Regions from separate parts of the Homo sapiens genome. Here region 2 is linked to region 1. The links come from fine-mapping of genetic effects on gene expression. A gene starts in region 1. The other region holds a variant in brackets. All regions are shown on one strand. Distances are between the middles of the regions. Region 1 holds the start of MYBPC3 (myosin binding protein C3). Region 2 overlaps CKAP5 (cytoskeleton associated protein 5).

Region 1 (5,252 bases):
TCGTCCAAGCACAAGGAGGCGCTGGCGCACCGCTGGGGCATCCAGAAGGGCAACCGCAAGAAGATGACCTACCAGAAGATGGCGCGCGCGCTGCGCAACTACGGCAAGACGGGCGAGGTCAAGAAGGTGAAGAAGAAGCTCACCTACCAGTTCAGCGGCGAAGTGCTGGGCCGCGGGGGCCTGGCCGAGCGGCGCCACCCGCCCCACTGAGCCCGCAGCCCCCGCCGGGCCCCGCCAGGCCTCCCCGCTGGCCATAGCATTAAGCCCTCGCCCGGCCCGGACACAGGGAGGACGCTCCCGGGGCCCAGAGGCAGGACTGTGGCGGGCCGGGCCTCGCCTCACCCGCCCCCTCCCCCCACTCCAGGCCCCCTCCACATCCCGCTTCGCCTCCCTCCAGGACTCCACCCCGGCTCCCGGACGCCAGCTGGGCGTCAGACCCCACCGGGGCAACCTTGCAGAGGACGACCCGGGGTACTGCCTTGGGAGTCTCAAGTCCGTATGTAAATCAGATCTCCCCTCTCACCCCTCCCACCCATTAACCTCCTCCCAAAAAACAAGTAAAGTTATTCTCAATCCATCCTCTTGCAGCACAGAGTCTCTTTTAAAATTTGTTGTGTATCTCTTTTGGCCCCTGTGTGCTGCGACGTCTCTTTTTGTCATTTGTCCATCGGGTGTTTACCGAGGACTGTACCCAATGCTGGACCCTGGGAACATGAGGACCAATGACACAGAGCGCCTGAACAGGAGTTAGAGTTTGGTGGAAAGAACAAGTCCTCAATTGTGATTAGGAGAGCAGATCCTATTTAAAAGCTCTCTACTCCTGATAGTTGTTGTTTTTAAGCCTTGATGAGGTTTGAACTCATGATGATGATGATGATGATGATGATGACCATGACCAGCAACAACATTTGATATTCTGGTCAATTAGTATCTGCCAACCTTGAGATGTGGAGTCTAATATCACTCCATTTTATAGAATGGGAAACTGAGGCTTGTAGAGGTCAAATTATTTCCCCAAGGTCACAGCCGTTGAGTGGCCAAGTTGGATCACACTCCAGGTCTGTCCCGACACGTCAACATGGAGTGGGAGGCCTTGCTTATCTGGAAGAGGATACTCTTCAGCATTCCGAGGACAGGAATTAAGCCCCAAAGCTCCTGTGGGCCGCAAAGGGTTCTCACGAGCTGCACGCCCAGCAGGACTTTAGACCCAAGTGAATCCCTGGTGGGACCCCCAGGTTCTATTTGCTTTCTAGCTCCTAGCCACAGCAGGGGAGAAACAGACCAAGCTGAGCGGAGAAGCCTGTAAGTCCTGTGTTTTCCTCCAGACGGTAGCAAGTAGTGGCAGTAGACAGCCTGGGAGTGAGGGACTTCCCAACGCTGTCAAAGACCTTAGGGAACCCAGATTCTGGGGCCATTATCGTAGGGACAAATACCCGCCCCACACCTCCTCAACCCCAGAGGGCTCACTGCAGCCCAACCCTGCAGCTCCCTAGTCCTACTGCAGGGCCACAAGAGAAGGCAAAATGGTGTTGTGTCTTCATTCTTCTATTTTTATTTTTTTTTTTTTGAGACAGGGTCTTACTTTGTTGCCCAGGCTGGAGTGCAGTGGCACGAACATGGCTCACTGCAGCCCTGACCCCCCGGGCTCAAGTGATTCTCCTGCCTCAGCCTCCCGAGCATCTGGGACTACAGGTGTGCGTCACATGCCTGACTGATTTTTGTATTTTTTGTACAGATGGGGTTTCATCATGTTGCCCAGGCTGGTCTCGAACTCCTGAGCTCAAGTGATCTGCCCGCCTCAGCCTCCCAAAGTGCTGGGATTACAGGTGTGAGCCACTTCGCCCAGCCCATTTTTATTTTTTTATTATTATTCTTTGAGATATTAATAATAAAAAATAATAATAAATAATATTTTTATTATTATTATCACTCTGTCACCCAGGCTGCAGTGCAGTGGTGCGATTTTGGCTCACTGCAGCCCGGAACTCCTTGGACTCAAGCGATCCTCCCACCTCAGCCTCCTGGGTAGCTGATACTACAGGTCCACACCACCACACCTGGCTAATTTGTGTGTGTGTGTGTATTTATTTTATTTTTTATTTTTTTAGTAGAGATGGGGTTTTGCCATGTTGCCCAGGCTGGTCTCAAACTCCTGGCCTCAAATAATCTGCCTGCCTCGGCCTCCCAAAGTGCTGGGATTACAGATGAGCCACCACACCCGGCCTAACATTTTTAAAATTATAAACCCACTTCATACGTGTGACAATCCTGTGCAGTGGGTGCTGCTTTCACCCACCCCGCTTTACAGATGAGGAAACCAGGTGCTTTGAGATTAAAGAGATGGCAGTGCTAGGACTCAGAGACACCCTGGCCCCAGGGTCTGTGGACATGACCACTGCCTGAACTGCCTGCGAGGATGCTCCTGACCCGTTAGCCTTAGGGTTATGGGCCCAGCATGCTCCCACCGTACAATTTGCTGTAAGAGGGACACACACGGGGCTTGGAGTACCCCTGAGGCTTGCCAAAGGTTGGGGAGGCAGAATTGTGCTGCGGGGGGTGAGGGGGGAAGGGACAGGAGCCAGCCAGGGACAATGTGGCCCTACCTTCTCCCTGGAGAGACCTCAGCTCTCTGGAATTCATCTATATTTAGCAGGTGGCTGGACAGGAGGCAGATAAGCAGAGCCTGGGGAGGGGGGAGGTCCCCATATATAGTGGGAAGGACAGGACCCCACTCAGTCCCTCTTTGGGTGACCTGTGCCTGCTTCGTGCCTGGTGTGACGTCTCTCAGGATGCCTGAGCCGGGGAAGAAGCCAGGTAGCTTTAGGACTGGGGTTGGGTCTAAGTGTGGGAGCAGGGGGGTGTCTACAATTGGGGAGCAGGGCTAGGAGGGAGTTCTTGAGGGGGTTGACGAGGACGTGGCCTCTGAGCCCCAGGACAGGGGCAGCCAGTCCTCCAGGGTCCTTTTTTGATTCTCGGTTTCTTTTTCCCATCCCTCTGATGAGAGGTGAAGGTAAACCCAAGGTCAGGGACGCAGAGAGGGGACACAGCCAAGACAGGAAGCACCCGGGGTCAACCCATTCTGAGAATGCAAAGGGACCCCTTCCCTGTCCCATTGCCTTCACCTTCCACAGCAAGGTTCCCCGCGGACAGAGCCCACGTTTAGTATGGAGCTGAGCCAGGCTCACGGCATGCCTTCAGACCAGTCTCTACCCACTATGGGTCTCAGTCTCCCAACCTGGGGTGCCGGGGGTGGTGGTGGCATTGGGTTGGTTCCTCCTGGCTGTGACATTATCTGCTTCATGAGCCTGTACGGTGTGGCCCCCATGTTGAGGGTGACACAGCCCCTCTTCTCTGAGAGAGGACAGTCAGGAGCCCCTGAACCCAGGCCAAGGGCAGGGAAAATCACAGCCCAGGGACCTGGGCCTGGGCTGTGCCCTTATGAAGGTTGTCCAGGGCAGAGATCCAGGTCCCCATCCCCCAGCGCCCTCCCAGGCCAGCTTTATCTCAGTTGCTGATACCCAGCCTGAGGTCCTTGGAGGACAAATTTGGCCACATTCCAAGTAGGCAGACTTCCCCGCCCCCTGCCAAGGGCCCGAAATGGTTGGGGGAAAGGGAGCTGGGTTCATCACGGGTGTCTCCAAGCAGGGAAAGTGGACACATGCAGAAAAAGTCTTGTTGGGAGGTCAGGACCACAGCCCTGGCTCTCCCGACTGCTAGCTGTGTGATCTTGGAGGAGCCGCTTAGCTTCTCTGAGCCTCAGTGTCCTCCTCTGAGAAATGAACAGAATAACTGCAACTACCTCAGAGAACTGGTAGAGTATTACGTGAGGGGATGCATAGAAAGTGCTAGCACAGTATTTACTGAGAGGGGCTGCAGGGGCGGGGTGCACGCTCCAACCAGGGGCCGCTGTAGCCTCCACCTGGCCCTTCAGTCTCAGCTTTTAGCAAGAAGCCACGGTCAGTGGAAGTGGCCGCAGGCAGCCCTGCCGTGTTCGAGGCCGAGACAGAGCGGGCAGGAGTGAAGGTGCGCTGGCAGCGCGGAGGCAGTGACATCAGCGCCAGCAACAAGTACGGCCTGGCCACAGAGGGCACACGGCATACGCTGACAGTGCGGGAAGTGGGCCCTGCCGACCAGGGATCTTACGCAGTCATTGCTGGCTCCTCCAAGGTCAAGTTCGACCTCAAGGTCATAGAGGCAGGTAAGATCCTGATCAGCCTTCCCTGAGGTTTGGGCTGCTGGGGGAGGGGCAGCCCAGCGACTCTCCATCCATCCAGGGAACAGGAGGTGCTTTCACACTTTCTTGCCTTTGCTGTGGCTGTGCCCCCCGCCAGGAACGCCCTTTCCCCCTTTTCTGCACATGACCTCTCTGAGTACCCCCATGTGCCATCCTGGCTTGTTCCAGCCATGGGGTAGGTGGGAGAGATGAACAAGACACAACCCCACTCTCCCCCTGCAGACCTCCCTGGGGAGATGACCCTGCACAGACGGCCGGGAAGCCCCAGGAGCTGTGGATGAGGGGAGTGCAGCCCAGTCTGAGGGGCTGCTCTAAGGCTGGGGCAGAGCAGGGATGGACCTGGAGCTGTTCAGGGCAGATGCAGAGGACATGGGAACTGATGGCCTGGGACGGGGAGGAGAATGTGAGAGGCAGGCTGGCTCTCCAGCTCAGCATGAGCTGCCTCTGAGGGGCCCAGGCAGCGGGAGGACAGCCATGGCAGACTTTCCTCATCCACAGCGGGCTCATGGGTCCAATGCTCAGGAGAGAGAGGGTGGAGGGGTCTCTGGTTAGTGGCTGCACCACGACTCCCATCTGATCCCCTCCAGAGAAGGCAGAGCCCATGCTGGCCCCTGCCCCTGCCCCTGCTGAGGCCACTGGAGCCCCTGGAGAAGCCCCGGCCCCAGCCGCTGAGCTGGGAGAAAGTGCCCCAAGTCCCAAAGGTGAGAGGGGCTGGGCAGGGAGGGGCAGGATCCGTGGGTAGGGCGTGTCCAGGGCAGGTCTCAAAAGCCTTTGCTGGGCCAGGTGCGGTGGCTCAGGCCTATAATCCCCAGTACTTTGGGAGGCCGAGGTGGGCGGATCATGAGGTCAGGAGATTGAGACCATCCTGGCTAACATGATGAAACCCCATCTCTACTAAAAATACAAAAAAATTAGCCGGGCGTGGTGGCGGGCACCTGCGGTCCCAGCTAACTTGGGAGGCTGAGGCAGGAGAATGGTGTGAACCTGGGAGGCGGAGCTTGCAGTGAGCCGAGATTGT
Region 2 (5,499 bases), 510 kb after region 1:
TTTCTCCAGGGCTGGAGTGCAATGGCACGATCTCGGCTCACTGCAACCTCTGCCTCCCAGGCTCAAGTGATTCTCCTGCCTCAGCCTCCTGAGTAGCTGGGATTACAGGCGTGAGCCACAGCACCCGCCTAAATTTTTTGTATTTTTAGTAGAGATGGAGTTTCACTGTTAGCCAGATGGTCTCAATCTCCTAACCTCGTGATCCTCCTGCCTTGGCCTCCCAAAGTGCTGGGATTACAGGCGTGAGCCACCGTGCCGAGCCAGCATATCACTTTTTTAATACTAGTTTGCATTTCCTTGTGCATCCTGTGAACCAACTCCCAGGCAGTTGGATCCATCTCTGGATTCCATGGATAACTTTTACCTTTAGTAATTGATGACAGCACAGCTTCAGCTCTTTACCATGGGTGACCACTTGGCCACCTAAGAATCAAAGTTCTTTATCCCTATCCTTTTATCCTTTTTCTTCCCAAACCATATGTGTCTGTGAGCCAAGTCATTCTAGCAAATCCCAATTCTGACGCCAATTCTGAGAATATAGAATAAGAAACTTTAATAAGTTTATCTTATACTCTCACAATACAGAAAACTTCTGTGACCTCAGATGTGTGAGATTTTTTTCCCCACACACCAAGCAAGTAGTTCTTCAGCAGTGGACACTAGCTGTGTGTCCTCTAATTCAGTTCAATTCTGACACCTTTTTTTTTTTTTTTGAGACAGAATTGCTCTGTTGCCCAGGCTGGAGTGCGGTGGCGCAGTCTTGGCTGACTGCAACCTCTGTCTCCCGGGTTCAAGAGATTCTCCTTCCTCAGCCTCCCGAGTAGCTGGGATTACAAGAACCCACCACAACACCCATCTAATTTTTTGTATTTTTAGTAGAGACGGGGTTTCTCCATTTTGGCCAGGCTGGTCTTGAACTCCTGGCCTCAAGTGATCCGCCCGCCTCAGCCTCCCAAAGTGCTGGGATTACAGGCATGAGCCACCTCACCTGGCCAATTCTGACACTTTCTATCTGGAGGTAGTGTCAGATCCCACAGGTTGAGGGTTTAGTCCCAGAAGACTGCCCCCAACTCAGATGCCAATCTGAAGCCCCAGGTTTTTTTTTACCTGTGCTTCTGTAGGCTGACTATAAAAATGGGCATTCCTAATACCGCCCCCCATTCCCTGCCTTGGGTTTGATTAATTTGCTAGACCTGTTCATAGAACTCAGGAAAACACATTTTCCAGCCAGTTTATTATAAAGGATATTGCAAAGGATACAAAGAGCTATATAGGGTGAGGTATAGGGGAAGAGGCATGGAGCTTCCATGCCCTCTCTGGGCACACCACGCTCCAGGGACCACCATGTGTTCAGCTCTCAGCTTCTCCAGCAGCAAAGTTTTAATTGCAATAAATTTGAGTACCTTAATATTATGAACACTGTTCTAGGTTTTTGGTAAGCAATTAAAAATAATAAACAACTTTAACAGTGCCTTAGGATAAGTGTTAAAAATTTTGACAGGGAATGAGTATGTTAAGGTAAAGCCAGGCTCTCTTATGCTCCTTTAATGGGGTCTTATTCATTCATTGAACAGATATTGAGATTGATGCTTAATGTCTGTCACACATTGTTCTAGATTCAGGGAATACACTGGTGAACCAGAAAAAGACAAAGGCCCTGACCTAAGGGAGTTTGACAGTTTTATCTGTCAAACAATTTACTGTAGCAAATTATAGTTTCTGTAATCCCTCTGGGGTCAGCTCTGGTCCTTGAATAAAATACATGCCCAGATACTTTTACTAGCAGTAGCTAACATGTATTGAATGCCTACTGGGTCCCACATTTTGTTTAATTAATTAATTAATTAATTTTTTTGAGACAGGATCTCACTCTGTCGCCCAGGCTGGAGTGTAGTGGTGTGATCATGGCTCACTGTAGACTCAACCTCCTGGGCTCAATCTGTCCTCCCACCTCAGCCTCCCAAGTAGGTGGGCCTACAGGCACATGCTAATTTTTGTATTTTTTGTAGAGATGGGGTTTTGCCATGTTACTCAGGCTGGTCTCAAACTCCTGGGCTTAAGCAATCTGCCCTCCTTACCCTCCCAAATTGCTGGGGTTACAAGCATGAGCCAACATGTCCCGCTACATTTTATCTTTTTTTATCCTCACAATGTTTTACAGATGAGGAAACTGAGTCTTTAAAAGGCTGTGCAACATGCTCAAAATCATAGAACTAAGTGATAGAATCTGAATTCAAACCCAAGTCAGTCTGTCTCCAGGGCCTTTGCTCTTAACCTATGATTGTACTACGTGAAGTAGGGATCTGTAGGAGAATTCAGGAGCAATTTCTGGGTAGAATTCCCCCAGCCCCTTTTAAAAAAGTACTTCTATCGGAGATGTGATGAAATATGAATGACAGGCATGATAGTTTTTAGAGGAAAGATGGCATTTACCATATGGAAGATGGACAACTGTGACAGTGGTGGCGGTGGGTAGCTAAAGGGACGCATAAAAATTGAGTTCTTAATCTAATTAGGATTCTTGGTAGTCAATGTTGGAGAGTTTTAAGGTTTTTAAATGATTTTCCTATTCTTGCCTCTGGAGTTTAGAATACATTACTTAGCTCATTTCTATCAGGGCAGTTACTCTACCTACTTGATGTGTATAACTCCAACACATTACGCTTATTCTTTTCGGTCTTTGCATTCTGTTCTGGAACTTCTCACTTCACTCTACCCCTACCCCCAGCCTGTATTACTGGCACTCTCAGGCTTCAACTTAAATGTCATCTCCTTAAAGAGACACTTTTCTGAGCTCTGAATTAGAGGAGCCCTCTTGGTCACTTTTACTTCACTTTTCCTTATTTACTTCATAGCATATATTGTTATGTAATTGTTTATTGTTTGTCTATATATTGTTAGATTTTCTCATAAAAATGAAAGCAGAACATAGATTTTTTTTTTCCTTTGAGGTTACCTCAGTGACTCAACAATGCCTGCAACAAACTAGGTGGTCAAAAATATTTGTTGAACAAAATTGGCCAAAACTGGCATCATCTTCTCTGAACAAAAAAGTGATAAAAACAGTATCTGACTATTCAGTTGGCTGTGTTTCTGTGTCTTTATTTATTTTTTTTTATTTTTATATTCTAAAAATGTTGCGACAATGGTGGCTCAGCAATTTTTTTTTTTTTTTTTTTTTTTTTTTGAGATGGGGTCCCACTCTGTCTCCTAGGCTGGAGTGTGTTGGCCTGATCTCTGCTTACTGCAACCTTCACCTCCCGGGCTCAAGGGATCCTCTCACCTCAGCCTCTAGTGGCTGGGACTACAGGCGAGTGCCACCACACCCGGCTAATTTTTTTTTTTTTTTTTTTTTTTTTTTT[TG/G]AAGAGGCAAGGTATTACTATGTTGCCCAGGATGGTCTTGAACTCTTGGACTCAAGTGATCTGCCTGCCTCGGCCTCCCAAAGTGCTAAAGTGCTAGGATTACAGGCGTGAGCCACCGTGTCTGGCTGTCATTTTTTTCTTTTTGTGGAGACACAGTCTCAGTATGTTGCCTAAGCTGGTCTTGAACTCCTGGCCTCAAACAATCCTCTCGCTCCAGCATCCAAAGTGCTGGGATTACTGGTGTGAGCCACTGCACCAGGCTTGTTCCTGTGTTTTTGGGTGTAAGCAGTATCTTAACAGTCTCAATTAGTCTTAAAATTATTTTAGACTAGTTCAGAAAGTCTTTAAGAAAGCTAGAAAAATTATACATCTGAATTTTTTAAAAAAATTTTAATCTGTTTTGAGAGGTACTAGTCAAATACATTGTAAGATGTCCTTCTATTGGAATTTGTCTGATGTTTTTCTCATTAGACTGGAGTTACAGGTTTTGGGCAGGAAGACCACAGAGGTAAAGTGCCATTTTCATCACATCATATCAAGGGTACATGCTATCAACATGATTTATGACTTAATATTGACCTTGACTGTTCATATTGACCTGAAATAGTGTTTGTGAGGTTTCTACAGTGAATTTACTTTTTTTTCCCCTCCTTTTCTATACTGTATTCTTTGAAGGGAAGTCACTGTTTGCAGCCCACACTTAAGGAATGGGGAGTTCCTTGATCTTAGGGTGGAGTACCTACTTAATTTATTTGAAATTCTTGTCTCTCCTTTCCCATTTATTAGTTTAGTCAAGTATTTACTGATAATAGTGTGGACTCAAGTATATTTATTTTATATTTTAGGTTACACTCCAATATTACATTATTTTGTTGTTCAGGTTGTTCCAGCTTTGTCCTTTGGGAGCTTCCTGTATTCCTTTAACATACATGTGTGTGTGTGTGCGCGTATTTGTATTGATCTTTGAGTACTTCCTTACTATCTGGAAATGTTCCAGGCTCATCTTGTGTATTTCTTGTCCCAGTGCTAGAATCAGCCATTTCCCCAAGGTGCCCTGGTTCCCTTATTGGAGAATGCTATTAGAAACAAGACCTGGGTACTGAGTGTTCTCTTTGCTACTGGGGTGTCATTTCTTTTAGGTCCTTTCAACTGTTAGAGCAAAGAAATATATGAATGTATGCTAACCCCATGTATATAGACATATCTATAAATATTTCTCTATGTAGCCATCTGTGTCTATATTAAGTTAAACGAGTTCCATAGATCACTTTCAGTAGTATGGGCGGGGGGGAAAAACATGAGTTCCTACTGGTGTCTCCAATTCTGATCCATTATCACATAGATCATTCTAGCCTCCTCCCCTTGCTGATCTTTGAATTTCCATTCACAATAGTGAAAAACCTAATTTCCACCATCCATTTATTTAATTGTCCAGTTCCATTATATATGGATATACATACATGGATAGCAGTATCAGAATTGCTAACCCATACTCCATGAAAAAAACTTTATCAACTAGAGTACATACTTCTGTGCAGTTCCTTTTGCCCTTAATCTTTCAGACTCCACTCATTACCAAAGCTACTTAGGTCAGAACCTTTTTCCCACCCCCTTTGGTGAAGTTGTTTCACACATCTGTAATATAGATTCCCTTGTCATAGTCTTCATTCTTTTCTGCAATCTCCCAGTCTCCTAAATGACTTTTTAAAATTTGCATACATTAAAGTTCACTCTTTATGTCATAAAAGTCTCGAACTCCTGCCTTGGCCTCCCAAAAGTGCTGGGATTAACAGTACAACCCACTGTGCCCAGCTGACATAAATTTTTAATTCAGTTGGATAAATACCTAGAAGCAGGTTGCTGGATCATATGGTAAGACTAGTTATAGTTTTGTAAGAAACTGCCAAACTCTATTCCAGAGTGGCTGTACCATTTTGCATTCCTATTAGCAATGAATGAGAGTTCCTCTTGCTCCACGTTCTTAACAGCACTTAGTTCTATCTGGTTTTTGGATTTTAGCCCTTCTGGTAGGTATGTAGTGTCCCCACTTTATTATTATTATTATTTTAAAGAGATGGGGTCTCACTGTGTTGACCAGGCTGGTCTCAAACTCCTGGCCTCAAGCAATCCTCCCAT

The links.
Region 2: its variant is fine-mapped to the expression of MYBPC3 in whole blood (INTERVAL, PIP above 0.99).

The regions. Positions count from the first base shown.
Region 1 is chr11:47,350,185-47,355,436 of GRCh38, reverse strand. It overlaps MYBPC3 (myosin binding protein C3), which reads left to right and starts at 2,735. Exons shown (of 35, transcript NM_000256.3): 1 at 2,735-2,814; 2 at 3,932-4,198; 3 at 4,822-4,935. The coding sequence starts at 2,790. SPI1 (Spi-1 proto-oncogene) reads left to right here. Exons shown (of 5, transcript NM_003120.3): 5 at 1-577. The coding sequence ends at 210. RefSeq lists enhancers at 3,111-4,091, 4,092-5,073.
Region 2 is chr11:46,836,482-46,841,980 of GRCh38, reverse strand. All of the region lies in intron 1 of CKAP5 (cytoskeleton associated protein 5), which reads left to right. Among named protein-coding and RNA genes, the nearest start is that of CKAP5, 7.0 kb to the left of the region's middle. The variant TG/G (reference allele first, on the strand shown) is at 3,363.